Regions from separate parts of the Homo sapiens genome. Here region 1 is linked to region 2. Evidence: fine-mapped expression QTL. A gene starts in region 2. The other region holds a variant in brackets. All regions are shown on one strand. Distances are between the middles of the regions.

Region 1 (8,344 bases), 34 kb after region 2:
TATATTTATTCAAAAGTATATGTATTAAGCATTTACTGTGTACCAAGTGTAGTATATTAGTAAGTGCATAGATTTTTAAATTCTTCAGATATTCTGGGCAGATGCCCAAAATAACATTGAGGGGAAGAAGCCATTATGAATGAGGAGAGCTCTGCTTCAGCCTAAGCTGAAAAAAGATTATAAAAGGAAGCCTTACCGATGGCTAGAAATTAAAAACAAGTTATTTATTGATAGATATAGCATCCTAGTGAATTATGGATTTATCTTAATACATATTTATGGCAGTTATAACTTTTCCAGTCTCTAGAAAGATGTACAAGAACAGATTTCCAGTGTGTTAAATTTCTTTTAAGGTTATAGACTGGTTGTTTTGTAGCACTTTACAAGATAGGCTTTGACTTCCTTTCTGAGACCTTCATCTCAATTCAAGGAAGCTGTAGTTTAGAGTGTTTTGGTCTCAGTCCCAATTTCAAAATCTTGTGTGTTTTCCTTGAGAGTTTGCATTTCCCCTTCTCAGTCACATTGAACTGTGTGCTAGTATATCTTTTAAAATTTTGGTGGAGACGTTTGGAAGTTATTTTTATATTTGAACAATTGCAACAGTATAACTATTCAGATACTTAGCTCCTAGAATAATATTTATGCTTTTAAAAATAAATGCAGATGGTGTATAATAAATAGCTTTAATTCAAGAGTGGACTATGATAGTTTATAGACAACTGTATGTGCACATGTGCTTTGCTTGATAAAAGTACCTAGTCCCTAAAGGGGAATATAGAAACTAAATTGCATAAAAGTTCCAAATGTATTAAGATTCAAAATATAAAGGAAATTCATAAGGTCTAGAAAAATAGATCTTAAGTTAGGGAGATTTTCTAGATGATATGAAATCTGGATGCATTTATAGAAAAGATTCATAGTATATTTCTGTCTGATCAAAAATACTGTTAAAGTAAAACAGACTGGGTAAAGTATTGGTAATAAAGCAGAAAAGATTAATAAAGAAGTTGCTATAAATTAATAATGAATTCAGGAGAAACGTGGGTAAAGAAAGTAAACAAAACTTACAAAATAAATGCAGATGGCCAATAAACTTACAAAACTAATTTATCTCAATAACCAAAGAAATTAAAATTTGAACAAGGTACAATTATTTACCAATTAGGTTGTTAAAGAGTATTAGCCAGGAAAACAGCACACTAGATATTTCAAACCTAAGGGATTTGTTATGGGGAATTGGTTACCCAAATATTGGAAGGCTGAAAGAACATGAAGGGAATGCTGAAGTAACCCAGGAATTAGACGCATGAAGCAACTACTACTCAAGGGCTAGAGAGACAAAAGAGAAGGGGTAGTAGTATTACTATAACCTAGGGCAGTGGAGTAGAAGCCACCATGGAGCTATTAGTATCCAAGGGGACTCTGCAAGGCTGGCATAGGGGGCAGGAAAAGGCTCCTAACAGTAGCTAGTTGTGTGCTGCTGTTGGAGAGAGGTCAACAACAGCAGGAGTCAAGGAGAGTCTCCTCTTTCCTTCTCCCCTCTCCCACCTTACAGTCTCTCATCAGTACCTCCCAGTGGCAGAGAATGGCCTCAGATGGGGTCTAGGAAATATTGTTTGCAGACTACCAGCCCCAGTGCCACAGAGCCTTTGAAAACTAGAAACTAGAGGTATCCACAGGTGCTAACAACCAGTTCTGGTGAGGGGTATTCGATGAAATAAAATGTGTATGTGGTTGGTAGGAATGTGAATGGATTCAACTTTGTGGGAAGATGATTTGGAAATACCTATAAAAAGTTTAAATGTCAATTGTCTTTGACCCAACAAATCTATGTCAAGAAATTTATCACCCAGAAATGCTAGCCAAGTGTGGAGAAATATATGTATATGATGTTTCATTGTGATATTTTATATAATTTCAAAAACCGGAAATAGCCTAAGTGTCTATCATTAGGGGATTGACTAAATGTATTGTGGTGTATCCATTTAATAAACAAAATGGCCATAACAAAATAAGAGTTTTACCTGTGTTATTGTGTGATAAAAGCTGTATTACATGTGGTCTGATATATTTTGTCAAATCCACGAGAGTCACGGTGTTGAACTTAGCAAGGTTTTTCAGCTACTGCAAACATAAATTTAGAGGTAATAAGTACAATATTTGGTGTGTTATTTTTTTCTGTCAACAGTTATGAATGCAGGAATGAGGAAGTACTTCCTACAAGCCAATGATCAGCAGGACCTAGTGGAATGGGTAAATGTGTTAAACAAAGCTATAAAAATTACAGTAAGTATATGTATTTTTTTGAAAAACGTTCGATGTCTGGAATTAATCTTTTCATTTTGAAAATACACCTACCAAATGTTCCCAGCTTACCAACAGGTTTCATACTCAAGCTTTGTTTAAAAGACAGGTGTTCAGAATGTGAATATGTTTTCTTGTACTTGGTGACTGTTGGCACTTTAATCAGCCCATGATTGTCTTTTTAACTTATGCACCTAATAAGGAGATATATTACTGCAGATCTTAATCACTTCTTGCAACGTTTCTAGGAGAAAATGCGCTTAGCACGTAGAGTTCTACCGGGAGGATATATATTTTTCTTCCAATATAGTGTAAGAGATTTCCTGTCACCTACCTGGGGAATAGGCACTTCTCTCTTCTAAGCCATGACTGGGATTGGGGTCAGATAGGGAAAGAGTTGAAAACAGGAGCAGGACAAGGGGAGATGAAGGCTGAAAAATGAGGGTTAGGGATAGGAATAGTGTCTGAAGGGTTGCGGCAGCCAGAGGGTCCTGTCCATGTGACCCTTGAGAAGTTTGTCTCAGGCTCTAAACTTCTTCCCATGTCTGATTTTTTTCCTTGCATTCCAGGGCTTGGTACCCTTGCCCTCCTTTCCCATGCTACAATTTCTTGCTTCTAATGTGTGCTTCTTTTCTTTTTTGGTTTCCTGATGAATATTTATTGATTATTAACACTGTGCCAGATCTTAGACCGAAGGTTTTACTTAAATGAACTGGAAAAGTGAGGCTTAGAAAGATTAATCTACCAGTGTTATAGCTGGTAGATTATGGAGCTGGAAGCCCAGTCCAGTTTTTTGGCCTCTGGAGCCCGAACTCTGAAGTGCAGTGCCTTACTGCTTCCTGAACAAGAACAGCCCTCTCCTTACTCTTTTGTTCCTAAAGCCAACAACAACCTTTACTGAGAGAGTTTGCTAGTGATGATGAGCAGCACGTAGATAGGCTCTATTTTGATTATACCTTGCCTCACCTTTCCCTTTACACTTTTGTAGAGAAATACATAGCAGGCCTGCCTGGAAAATGTTGGGAAGGAGTTCTTGTGTTGTGAGATTTGTGTCAATTGCGTTTTTGTTTTTGTTTTTTTTAAAGAAAGTGCAGTTATATACTGACCCTAAGTGACTTATTCTCAAAGAACATGTGCCCTGAAAGTCAGCATATGTTAGTCACTCATTAGTTTCCATCTAAAATGAATAATTTCCTATTTATATCACAACACAATAAAGAGTCAATATAGTTAAAGCTGTTCTCAGAGTTTAGTCGAATCTTTTTGTTTTGCTCTAGAACAGCTTGTTACCACATGACAGAAAA[C/T]GCCTACGCACCGCATCTGATCTGTACATGAAGCAGAAGTTATTTTAGGTTTGTGCAGTGTCAGGAAAGCAATTTTTTAACCTGATTCAGACATACATATTCTTAAAAGCTTTTAGCTAATCATTTTAACTCTTCTAATAAATATTCCCTGCTTGAAAAATTTCTTTAGAAAGATAATATCTCGTAACTGTACTAAATTCATGTTTTACCATTTGCAATAACAAGCAGCACTGGTTTCTTAGTGCTTTAAGAGAAAAAGTAGTGAATGGTCTCAGGCTTTTTACCATTTTGGGGGGTCTTGAATTGCTATGTCTGATTTATCAATGGTATGAAACAGTCTTATACAAATGACACTGGTAAGCTTTTCAGCATGAAGGAAAAACAGGTTAGAGATTCTAAATAGAATTCTAAAAAGACTTCTAAGTAGCTTTTGTGGTCTTGCAATTTTATTTTACCTGTTGAAATTTTTATAGTTTTTAAGATAAATTTGTTGGTAAATGATTTTAATGTTTTTATAATTCACATTTGGAAAATATAAATACATAGAAGTTATAGAAATCCTTATTACTTAATAAAGTGGTTATAACTGCATTAAAGTGAGTATAGATTTGATAGTACTTATTAAAAATAAACTTTTGATAGACACACATTTAACTCATAGGATAGCAATGAAATAATTTCCTATGCTTTAATAAGATGCTTTATGTTAATTTTATTCCTTAAAAATATCTTACCAGTTTCATGTGCATTTTATACATTTAAGTGTATTAAAGTGTGGAATCTCCAATTTGTTATATTTTCCTGTGAACATTGCTGATGATTTACATGTAGATTATTTGAAAACTTAAAATGTACATTTTGATGTATGTACTTAATACATAAATCTTTCTATGGGATCACTCTCATTTTGGTCAACTCTAATTTAGTGGTCTGCTAAGTACTGTGTGATATATAAATTTTAAAATTTTGGAAATCCAAAATTAGAGTTTGGAAGTGTGTGGTTTCAAAATAGAGGTGGTTAGAGGGCAATGGGTAAGGGAATGATGATTTTTAAACTATTTCCTAGTTATAATATCTTGCCATTTTAATCCATTATCCTCTAACGCTATAGTCTGTGACTTTCCTTACTTGAGTCTAGGTGGGTGCCACTTGAAATTCTTTTCCCTTTACAGTTGCTTTTCAACTTATGATGGGGTTACATCCTTATAAACCTATTGTAAGTCAAAAACACAAGTTGAAAATCCATTTAATACCCCAACAAACCCACTTGTAAAGTTGAAAAATTGAACCATTGTAAGTCCTGGACCATCTGTATTAAACATACGCACAAAAAGGAAAAGAGCAACAGTGGGAGAATCAGCCCCGAAGGGGGAGTATCAATGACTGGAGTGAGGAAAATCAAATTTTAAAGTATGCTTTCCACTGTTCATTTATAGTGGAAATATATATAGTGGAAATATAGTGGAAACAACATAAATATGGTGGTTTCTGTTCCCTTATTGATTATTAAGGAATGTCTAAGATATATATGGTTTATTCCTGAACAGAGATCCATTATTTTTAAACATGTCTTTTTTAAAATTTAAAAATAAATGTTCGATTTGAATCTAAAAATTAGTACTTTGAATTTGTGGCAGAAACTCCACAAGTTTGATATATTTTTAATAGAAACTGGAAACAAGTAGATGTAGAATTCTCAGAAAGATTGTAAGACCCAGGAGTTTGTGTCTGCACGTTTTTATCCTCAGTGAATTGAACATTATGACAATTTCATTCTTTCTTTTTATCCTTTTTTTTTTTTTTGAGACAGAGTCTCGCTGTGTTGCCCAGGCTGGAGTACAGTGGTGCTATCCCAGCTCACTGCAGCCTCCGCCACCGGGGTTCAAGTGATTCTTGAGCCCTCAGCCTCCTAAGTAGCTGGGATTACAGGTGTGTGCCACCACAGCCAGCTAATTTTTGTACTTTTAGTAGAGACTGGGTTTCGCCATGTTGTCCAGGTTGGTTTTAAAACTCCTGGCCTCAAGTGATCCGCCCAGCTTGGCCTCCCAAAGTGCTGGGATTACAGGCGTGAGCCACCGCGCCTAGCCCAACATTATATTTTCATTCTTGGTGAATTGAATATCAACTTTCCCTTTAACTTTTGAGAAACCTGCAGCGTTTTTATGTATTTCACTCATAAATACTTAAATCTGTCTTGTTCATCTTTTTATTCTCTAGTTATTTTTACCTTTTCTTTTCCTACTATTAGAATTTCCTACTACTAGGATCACATGCAAATGCCTGCCAAGATTACATTCAGATCTCCTACAAAAAATGCTGGGACATAAAAAAGGATAGAAAGCCAAGGAAAGGGAGAGAGGCAGTAGACAAAGAAACCAAGTGGATTCAGTGTCTGACATGTGCCAACTGCCCAGTGAGATCACTTTTCTGATTTTCATTGGACAGTTGGATGGTTTGGGGCAGGGGTGTGTCCTGAAAATGTCTATCTTAATGGCTGAATTTAGACCAAGTTTTACAGAGGTACATATTGTTTTTAGAGGAGTTATCCATGTTCATGGGTATTTTGCTTGAACTTTTCTTGTTCTTAGGGAATAAGATGATTACAAGTTAGATAATTTTTATAGTAAAATGCAGTTCTAAGTTAACTACTAGCATTTGATTTTATTATAAAGACAAATTAGAAGCAGTGAGCTTAACAGCATAAGCAAGGACTTTTAATATACTGTAATTTAAGAAAAATGGAAAAACCAATATAAATTTCGGTATTTTTTAGAATGATTTTAAAGGTTTTTCCTAATAATTCCCAGGTCTGACTAAACTTCTTGAGAGAATAACTGCTAGTTTTCTTATGGGTCACCTCTTAGCAGCACCTCTCATTTTATCTAGTTGAATAGATTGTTTTCTCTCTGGTTTCAGGTTCTCTTAATGCTAGTTGCTGTTCTTCTCAATGAGATAACTGGGCCATATTTTCTCTGTCAGAATAATTGAAATATATGGTGCTATTCATTAGAAAATATAATGGGCTTCCCTAGCAAATCATTCCAGGGTATACTATCCTAATTTTATTTGACAAGGAAAATTCTCTTCATTATTTTATTGTCTTTAAAAAGCACTCCAAAGTGTGCAAGTTCTTAGAAGAATTCAAGAGGTATTCAGGATTCTCTTCTCTTTCCTGTTTTCTCTCTCTTTTGTTTCTGCGGATGAGGGCATTGTAGTATGAATACGAACCAGAGGCTGGAGGATTGGGCCTGGGGCCTGAGAGAAACCTCTTCAAGGGAGGCAGGTGGAGAAGGAAGGGAGAGGGAGTTTTAGAAGTCACTTAAGAGACAAGTCATTTATTATATCCATAAATTACATTTGTGTGGATTGGGACTTACTGTAGCTCAGCATCCTTTCATATACACATGGACCATGTTTGCTCAATATTTTGCAGAAAGCTGCTTTGCAAATCCTTATCTGCATTGTATACCCTCTTTTCTACAAATCTGGTGGGAGTAGCATCGTATGGAAGAAGAGCACAGGTTTTAGAGCAGTGTTTCTCAAAGTGTGGTTTATGAAACTCCTGCCTCAAAAATGTCTGGTGTTCTTGCTTAAAGTGCAGGTTTTTGGGCTGCACTATAGATATGTTGAGTCAGAATTTCTGGGTTCGAAGCAGGGGAATCTGAAGTTTTAAATAATGTTCCTGGGTGATACTTTATGCACTCTAAAGTTTGAGAAATCACACTGCTTTGGAATCACACTAATAAACGGTTTGAGCCTTTGAATACAATGTGAGTGGTGTCCTGTAGTTCTACCAGTACTCTATTAACAGGAATTAGCTATATGACAAGCAAACTATTTAAGTTAAATGTTTCTACACCACTACTTCAGTGATTGTCAGTAGTATTTGTCATAGTGTTTCTGAAAGACTGCAAGGTTCCACGTGCCCTTTAAATCATTGGAGAAGACTAAATCATGTTCAACATTATAATTGATGCTGAGCAGATTTTATTACATTTTATTCACAGCCTTAAAAATGTATAATTTAAATACAGACTATGTGCTAAACAGTCTACAGATAGAAATAATGATTAACTGAGTACCTTATTTACTGAATAGATCACATAAGAAAAGCAAAAATATATGTTAAAAATTTATGATACCTCTGATTCTTTCATCCACTTTAGTGAGGTGTTAATGTGAGATTCTGCTGTTACCACAGTCATTGTTTTCCTGTACTTGTGAACGATTTATCATTGATCCAAGTATTGGAATTCCTTCTTTAAATTTCTAATGAAAAGTTTTGTTTTGAAACTTCTGATTTGTTTTAAGAATTTTGCTATTCTTTTTTCTGCTGACTTTGGATTCATCCATTGAGTCTTTCAACATTTATTGAATACACTATGGTTTTGGTAATAGTCTCTGTCTTGAAGCCAGGAAAGACTGAATATGCCACAATCCCAGAATCATGGGTAGGAATGGAGAAAGGGAAGAAAACAGCAAAGAGCTGTAAGCCAATAGTAAGTGTGCCAATAAACAGGGTCTAGAGCACAGCAGTTGGGCTTGGAAGAGTTACACACACTTGGCTAGAATGTATTATAGTCAGGATCTGAATCTATATTCCCTAATGCCCCTGAGCCTATTTCCTTACCTCTTAGGTGGGGGTAGAGCCCCTATGCATAGGGTAGACAGGAGTAGTAAAGGAGAAAAATGTGTGAACTAGTACCTGCCCGAGTAAGCACTCATTACGTGATAGC
Region 2 (8,344 bases):
GGAGCTTGTGAAGCCCAAGATGGACTTGTTCCCAGATCCTCTCTCCCAGCTTTGTTTGCAAGGAGTCTTCACCTTCTAGAATGCTCCCTACTTCAGTGCTGCAATTAGCAACCCAAGTGTGGCCCTGGATGATCATCTTGATTCAGAAAATCTTGTTTTTCAAGTTTTCACACCACATTGGAGCAAGAGTCCGTATGTTTGGATGACAGCAAGCATCCTGTGCTCTGCAATTTTAGGGTTTACCACCATCCCAGGCCTGCCACATGTGGTCAGGGTAATTAATGTATGACCTAACTAGGGTGTAGATGCAGCTGGAACCCACCAGACCCCCAGAGATCATAGGGTTGCTGGGGACCTTTAGAACTCCAGTGGCTTTCAGCAACTTTAGATCCTGTCCAACCCAGATGTTCAGTGTTGGGCTCCCTTCCTTGTCTGATAATCCTAAGGCAGGAAAGACCTAGTTCTGCTCTCTACAAGTCTTGGAGGCAAGCATCTCCCCGGATGCCCAGTTTTTTGTTTTTTGTTTTTTGTTTTTTTTCCTGTGTGGGCCTGGAATTTGGGCTGGTTGCTGACTTTTTCAGAAATCCTATTCTTCCACCTTGGTAAGCATAAAATGTGGACAATCTTTCGTGGCACCTTCCTGAAGGAGGATTGTTCTGCCCCAGCCCTGGGATGCAAGAATTAGCTCCAGAAGGAGACTCCAGTCACCTGATTGGTAATCTGGGAAGGTCACTTAATCTGTGCCTGCTTGGGGTGATTACTGAGAATCATGCTTCCCCTCACTTGGTCATTGCCAGTTGTGAGGCAGGGTCAGAAAGCCAGCTCCGACTCTTCACCCACAGAAGCAACTCCACTGACTCGCTGCCTGGAGTTCTTGTGCCATTTTTACACTAAAAAATAGGGAAAAGCCGTTTTTAACTCTCTGCTACCCAGTTTCTGGAGGGGACACAAAAAGAACAAAGCCGGGTTCAGAGAGTGTTCAGTTCATGTTTAATTCTTGTTCTATCTTGGTTCTGATTTCTGGTTAGAACAGAGGTTTGCTTCTGGAGGTACTCCTTCTGCTTGGCTTCTGATGCTGGCTCTGTCCATAAAGGGGACTGTGGCATTCATCATTCAACACATACTTCTGTTGTAGGCACTAAGGATACAAGCAGGAACAAAACATAAAATCCCTGGCCACGTGGAGGTTACAGTTTAGAGGGATATGCAGAAAAAAAAATATATATGCACATATATAATATGTACAAAAGTGACCATTGCTAAGGGGAAAAAGATAATGCAGGAAATGCTGCAGACATCAAATATTAGAGAGGTGACTAGCATTCAGGAGCTTTCTGCGTGCCTCTGTACGCTGCTTTTTGTGTTGTCAGAGGGGCTGACGTCTGTCTGGAAGCCCCAGAGCCCAGCACTAAGCATATGGAAGGGGCCCAAGAGCTATTTTTGAATGAAACATCAACGTACTTCACACGTGCAAAGCATGATGATAATGATGACAGTGATACTTTAAAGGTAAACTGCAGGCTGGGGCAGTGGCTCACACCTGTAATCCCAGAACTTTGGGAGGCTGAGGAGGGGGGTAGATCACTTGAGGTCAGGAGTTCGAGATCAGCCTGACCAACATGGAGAAACCCTGACTCTACTAAAAATACAAAAATTAGCCTGTCATGGTGGCAGGCACCTGTAATCCCAGCTACTTGGGAGGCTGAGGCAGGAGAATCACTTGAATTCAGAGGCAGCGGTTGCAGTGAGCTGGGATTGTGCCACCACACTCCAGCCTGGGCGACAGAGCGAGACTCTGTCCCTTCCGGCAGAAAAAAAAAAAAAAGTAAACAGCTAAACTATAGATCCTTGAATTCAGACTCCTCCTTTTTCTTCAGATGAAAAGTAGCCATGGAATATTCCAGCATTCCTCAGTGCCTTCAGTGAGTCCTGAGTGTTCTTGGTTTGCTCCCAGACTGTAATTTCCCTGTACTATTTTTTTTTTAAATAGCACTGAAAGCACTGTTATGTAATAAACCTCTGCATCCAAAAAAAAAGAGGCTGGAAGAAAAGCAGAGAGCTTTTTTTTTTTGTCTCTGTATTTATTGGCTGATCGGGAGCTATGAAGTTCTGGTTATACTGCAACCTCAAAGCAGTCCTGGGATTATCTTGTTGTGTGTCCTTGGGCAAACTGAGTTACTTTTCTGGCTTTCTTTACTGTATGTAAATATGGCTCTCAATGATAAACAGTTTTGGGGACTTGTTATGCAAAAAGAACAAAGGAGCAATTTTTTTTTCTTGAGTCCCGTTCTGTCCCCCAGGCTGGAGTAGAGTGGCACGATCTCAGCTCACTGCAACCTCCATCACGTGGGTTCAGTTGATTCTCCTGCCTCAGCCTCCCGAGTAGCTGGGACTACAGGTGCCCACCACCATGCCTGGCTAAGTAGAGGGGGTTTCACCATGTTGGCCAGGCTGGTCTCAAACTCCTGACCTCAAGTGATCCGCCCACCTTGGCCTCCCAAAGTGCTGGGATTACAAGCAGGAGCCATCACATTGGCCAAAGGAACAATTTCAAACCACTCATCAATGATGTCAAACAACATTTAGGAGAGAGATCCGGCGGGTCCAGCCTGGAGAGGGTGAGAGGCTCTTGGCCTAAGTGTTCTATTCTCAGGACCAGTATTTTCAGATCAAATAAAAGATGTGAATTTGACTTTGAATTTCAAATAAACAAATTTCCCATCTGGAATCTTCTAGGATTCTAGCACTGACAAGCTAGAGACTCCTTCCAGACCTTCTAGCCAGGGAAGGCAAACTCAAATGCCTACAGGGATAAGACAGGTGACACCTAGATTTTTATTTTTAAATGTTAACCACACATTCAGTTAAATCAACAAAAACCCACTGTGTGGACCAAAGGAAACAATCTGCTCTGGCTACTTTATAAACTATAGTGAGGCCAAACCCTTTCAACCATTATACAGATGAGGACCCCAAAAGGGACAGATGTCAGCAAGGCTGCATAGCTAAGGTTTCTCAAAAGATAACCAAAATATCACGTTGGATGAAAGGCAATTGAAAATGCTAAGTCTCAAAGAGGCAGTCAGAGAGCCGTTCTATGCAGTTTGCAAGATGTTTTCACCTCCATCAATTTATCAGACTCTGAGAACATTCTGCAAGGCAGGCAGGGTGGATGACACTCATTTACAGTCGAGGTCACTGAGGGTCAGAAGGGCAAAGTGTCACTCTCTGCATAAAGTCACATAGGTAAGTCTACACAGGAAAATCTAGGGCTGTTCTTCACTACACCTCTGATTCAGATAACAGGTAGGCTTCCTCTAAGATTTTAATAAAGACAAACTCAAAATCCTGTATGATGCCCCATGAAGAGAAACAAGTCAGGAGGCCAGGCTGAGCCCCCAGACTTCTAACCCAGTTCGCAAATAAAGAAAGTGGCAAAGTAGATAGATTCCAGCCTGTCACCAGGGTTGTGTCTTCTGTCCTAGCAGCTGTACAGCTTGTCTTACCACTGGACATTTGTTTCATGTACATTTTCACATAGGAAGGATATTCTAAAAGATGTTGATAAAGATTTTTTAAAGGGTTTGAAGGGGATAGGATGTGATCTAAGGTTGTGCAAGGAGAGGAAAGGAAGAAGCACACAAAAAGAACAAATATTTATTAAGAGCCTAGAGTGGCATGCGCTGTGAAAGGCGTGGCATGTAATTCTTTCCCAGTTCTTTGCCTGTCTGAATATTTCTCATTCTTCAGGTTTCAGCTCAGATATCACATCCTCAGAGAACTTGCCTTGCCACTCTCTCTGAAGAGCCTCCCCCCGTCCCCGCCACCGCTACTGTCTCTTGAACTTTCTCAGTCTGGCCATTCTATTAAAATCTGGAACGATTTTGCTAGTTTGCGGACGAGTTTCCCCCAAGCTGCAGGCTCCATAAGGGCAGTGACAGTGTCTCTTTCTCAGATGAATGCCGGGTTGCCTATCGCGTACTTGGCACACAGTTAAGTGCTCGAGAAATTGCTAAACACTCAACGAATATTTACCAGAATACATATTTATGCTCCACCGTTGCTGAAAGAATTTCGACTAACCCTTCTTTAAGTCTCTCTTACCCTCCTGTACTATTAACACCATTGTAAGTAGGCAGTGGAGCTACATTTGCAGGGAGAGAGAAGAGCGAAAAATTGGCGCGCAGAGCTGTAAAGCGTTTTTCTCCAGGTCACACCGCAGCCTGTAAATTTGTGACACTTGGACCGATTATGGGACAGCTTGCAAACAAATTATCTGCAAACTAACGAAGCCTATTTTTAAAGATCCCTGTTCCTCGCAGCTCTAGGCGATGACATCAGAGAACCCGGAGTTCTACCTCCGAGCCAAGCCCAGTGGTGGTCAAAAACTACGAATACCAGGAAGCACCGCGGCGCGGCGGCCCAGAGCTCCGCGCGCAGGCCTCCCCGGCGCGCCGAGGCCGCCGCCGCTGGAACCAGGAAGACGCCAGAAACTCGGCCCGCCACGCCGCAGGGACCCGCGCGGGGCCTGCCGGGACTCGTAGTCTCTGCGGGCTGGGAGCGCCCGCTCCGGAATCTCAGCCGCCGTCTGAGGGCTGAGGCAGCGTGGGGACGCGTGCGCAGTGCGCGGGCTGGCCGTCGCGGACGCCGCTCCGGGCAGCCGAGCCTCTGTGGGAGCCGGGGCCGCGGCGGCGCGGGTGCTCCGGGCCGAGGCCGCGGTAAAGTTTAGCTTGAAGAACGCGGCCGCGCTGGAGCAGGGGTGGTGGACGGGGCCAGGCGCGAGGTGGCGGCGGCTGCGGGGCTGCCGGGCTGCTGGAGCGCGGTTCCCGCTGTGGCGAGCGGGGAGGCGTCCGCAGAGGGGCGGTGGGTGCTGGTGAGTGCGGAGCCGGCGCCCCCTCTGCGCACGTCCGCGCCACGCGCCACAGCACCTGGAGGCCGCCGGGCCGGCTCACCTGCCCTGGCTTGGGGCAGCGGGAGGGGGCGGCGTCTTCTTCCCGTGGGTCCCCGATTGTTTTCCCGACGTCAGCCCTCAGCGGCGCCCGGCGGGGGAGGGCGGGAGGCCCGCGGCGGTCGCGGGGCCGACGAGCTCCTCGGCGTCTCCGCCCCCCGAGAAATCCCGCTCGGGGCGCGGTGCGCGCAGCTGCCCGGGGATTCCCGGTGGCGCCGGTCGGAGCGCCTCCCTCCAGGGCTGTGCCCGCGGGGCGCGCGTCCCCGGGCATCCTTTCCTGGTGTTTAATGCATTTTGGCTTCAGGACTTGCCGAGGCCGAAGCCGGCTCCGCCCTGGGCCCTGAAGTCGGGCGGTGTCCGCGATTTACCTCCGCACCTTCGGGGCAGGTGGCCAGAGGCAGCGTTGAAAGCGACTTGCCCAAGGTCACGCAGGTGGCACCGGGGAGGCGACCAGACCCAGGTCTTTCGACGCCGAGGCCAGCTGCCAACCGCAGAGCTTTGGGGCCGTCTTGAGTGGTTTGTGGTTTGTTTCAGATGCTTTCTATTGACCTCCTGGAAAGAGGGGAAAGTGTGTCATAATGAAAGCGGTCCTGTTGCTTATAGTGTTTACCGCCTTTGGTAGAATTCTGGTGAGGCTGTGCCCCCGCGCAGAGCATCTACCGTGGTCTGGGCGTATAAATAATGAAACTCCTTTGCTCTCTGGGGGCAGTACAAGAAGAGGTTCAAGGAACAAATAAATATCCAGGCAGTTTCTGCGTTTTCCTCGTCTGTTTGTTTCACCTTCCAATTCTGCAGTACTGGTTTTCTTATTTTACAATTGATCGTTGTTTTAATAAGATTTTCTTTGTTTTAATGAAGTCATTGCCCCTTGTGAGTTAGTTTTCTAAATAGAAAATCTTATTTCCTGTGTGTTTAATGACTGGAACAAATAGTGCACTATGAGGTTTACACCATTGTCTTTCATCTTAGAACTCCTGATCAATCTGCTTTATTTTCCCAAGTACTCAGCTTGCATACTTTCTATGTTAATTTGATGCCACTGAAACCATTTACAGCAAAGTTTGGGTAAGAGTTATGTGATTGTTTTGTGAAACTGTGTTTTTCTTCACAATCTGAAGAACTTGAAGACCCGTTATATTAAAATAATAAGATTTATTCTGATCAAAATACCTGTTTACTTTTCATGCTCTTAATTTTTCCTGTTGACACACTTGTGGCAAAAGAAATATTTCCCCTAGTGGAGTTAAAGTATTTTTTATCTTGGCCAATTTTCCCAAGGAAAATTGCATTTTAGAGTACTGATACATTTAAAAAAGAGTATTTAAGTTTGACAGAATTTGAATTAATAAAGTAGTTAATTTATTTTATACTGCCGTAAACCTTACACTGTATCTACTGACAGTTTTCTCTTGTAGCGTATACCTGTATCAAGATATATGGCTGTGAATTTAGTGACATTAAGAAGATATATATATATATATATATATATATATATATAATATAAATATATGTGTATACACACCGCGCGGGCGCGCGCAGAGCTTCCAATCTTTATCTTGTTAATTAGTATTTTCATTGTCGCTTTGGGAGGGGGGAAAGTAGCAGGTTTGTATCTTTTTTTCTCCCCAGTTTTAGCAGTGTAACAAAATAGGAAAGATGGTGTGTAAAATTGAGTTTGTCATAGACTAGGAGAGACAGTGAAACAGGATAAGTATACAATTGTGAGGAAACTGCCATGAGTTCATAAGCCGGAAGGACCTTTTTAGAAGTGTTTAAGGATGTTAAGAATAGCATTGGATTCTTTTCTTTAAAAGTCATTCAAGTATCGTTTGCTAACATATAGGATATGACAATATTGACCACTCCTAGGAAGATACTTGGGAAAGGTGGAAACATTTTACATTTTTATGGGGACTTCCCCCCACAAAAAACATTTAATGGAGATTTAAACAAAGTGGCTTTTTGACTTAAGCCTGGAAGTTCTTTATTATTATTAGTCATGCTGCAAATCCCGAAGTTATTTTAATTGTGTGATAATTTGTAACCCAGAATGAAATCTAATAAATAGTTTATTAATATAATTTAAGTCATACTTTGACATTGACATATTGCTTGATGTCAAGTCATTATTGTTTAAATAACTTATTTGAGAATGGGGAAGATAGTTTTCTGAATATAGTGTAGTAATTATTTGTGACAATAGTAACATTGCTTTTATTAGAAAATTTTGGGTTGATATAACTAACTGCCTTAAAGTATTTCCTATTTGATTCCAACTGTGAGCTGAGGTAATATGCAAATAATTACTTTTCTCATGCTGGAGCAGTTTACTTTTGTTAATATTAAAATTTAAATTTCAAGATTAAAAAATCTTGTTTTAGATCTGCAATGATACAATAAAATGACTTCAATAGGAGTTAAATATTAAGATTTGGTTTTAGGTTTTTTGACCATTTGTGAGTACACATCCAGCATTTAAGAATTTATTGACATGGTGTCTGAAAGGAATGCTTTCAGAAAGGGCAGAAAACTTGGTAGCTTTAGATGATTGTTTATAATGCTTAATTATTTTTAGAAACATAAAAATATGGGATGTTTTTATGTAAACATAAAGCATCCTGTTATTTGTTATAGCACTAGAACTCTCTTACACTTACTGAGCAATATTAAACCATTTGACCCTAAGTAACTTTTTTTCTTGTGGGTACTGTCTAATAAGGGATATGTGAGTTTGTGATTCCTAGAAGATGCTTAAGCAAACATATGTTTGCTATTTATTTTAGTAAGCCTTTTAATTAGTTGAATTGATAATATTCAGGAAGATAGGGTTTTTGGGATTTTATAAGCTTTCTTTGAACTGGAATTTCTGTTGGATATAAAAGAAAATTAGTCATTTAAGATTTTTTTAAGTTAAATAAGTTTTAGAGCAAAATATTGTTTCCTACATGGAACTCTTACCAGGCTTGTCAGTCTGATAGCTTTATTCTCCAGAAAGTTGTGGTTTTTAGCCCTTTAGGCAGCCTAGCCTTTTATGGTTTAACCATTGAACTCTAGATTCTGGATTGAATTTAACCTCTTGAAGGAAAAGACGATCACAGGCACTAGAATTGGAAGTGATGTCAGAGGGCTTCTAATGTAGCATCTTACCCGGTACAGTAAATCCCTCCTGAGAATTTCCATGTCAGGTGTTCCCTCCCATTATTAAGGATGAGAATGCTATTGCATATGTCATCAGGTTATTCAGCAGTCCAAGCTTACTGAGAACAAACACAAGAGTTTTAATGAGTTTTAATTTTCACTATTCACTGCCTTTAACTGTATTTTGTAGGCTCTTTCCCACCCCCCTGTCCCCCACCCCCCATAACATCATGGGTAAATGATAGCTTTTCTGTCATT

Evidence for each region.
Region 1: its variant is fine-mapped to the expression of PLEKHA1 in whole blood (TOPMed, PIP 0.90).

What each region holds. Positions count from the first base shown.
Region 1 is chr10:122,404,388-122,412,731 of GRCh38, forward strand. PLEKHA1 (pleckstrin homology domain containing A1) reads left to right here. Exons shown (of 12, transcript NM_001001974.4): 5 at 2,189-2,286. Among named protein-coding and RNA genes, the nearest start is that of MIR3941, 8.4 kb to the right of the region's middle. The variant C/T (reference allele first, on the strand shown) is at 3,609.
Region 2 is chr10:122,370,089-122,378,432 of GRCh38, forward strand. PLEKHA1 (pleckstrin homology domain containing A1) reads left to right here and starts at 4,620. Exons shown (of 12, transcript NM_001001974.4): 1 at 4,620-4,718. RefSeq lists silencers at 4,328-4,477, 4,618-4,727, 4,768-4,837, 4,858-5,017, 5,028-5,227.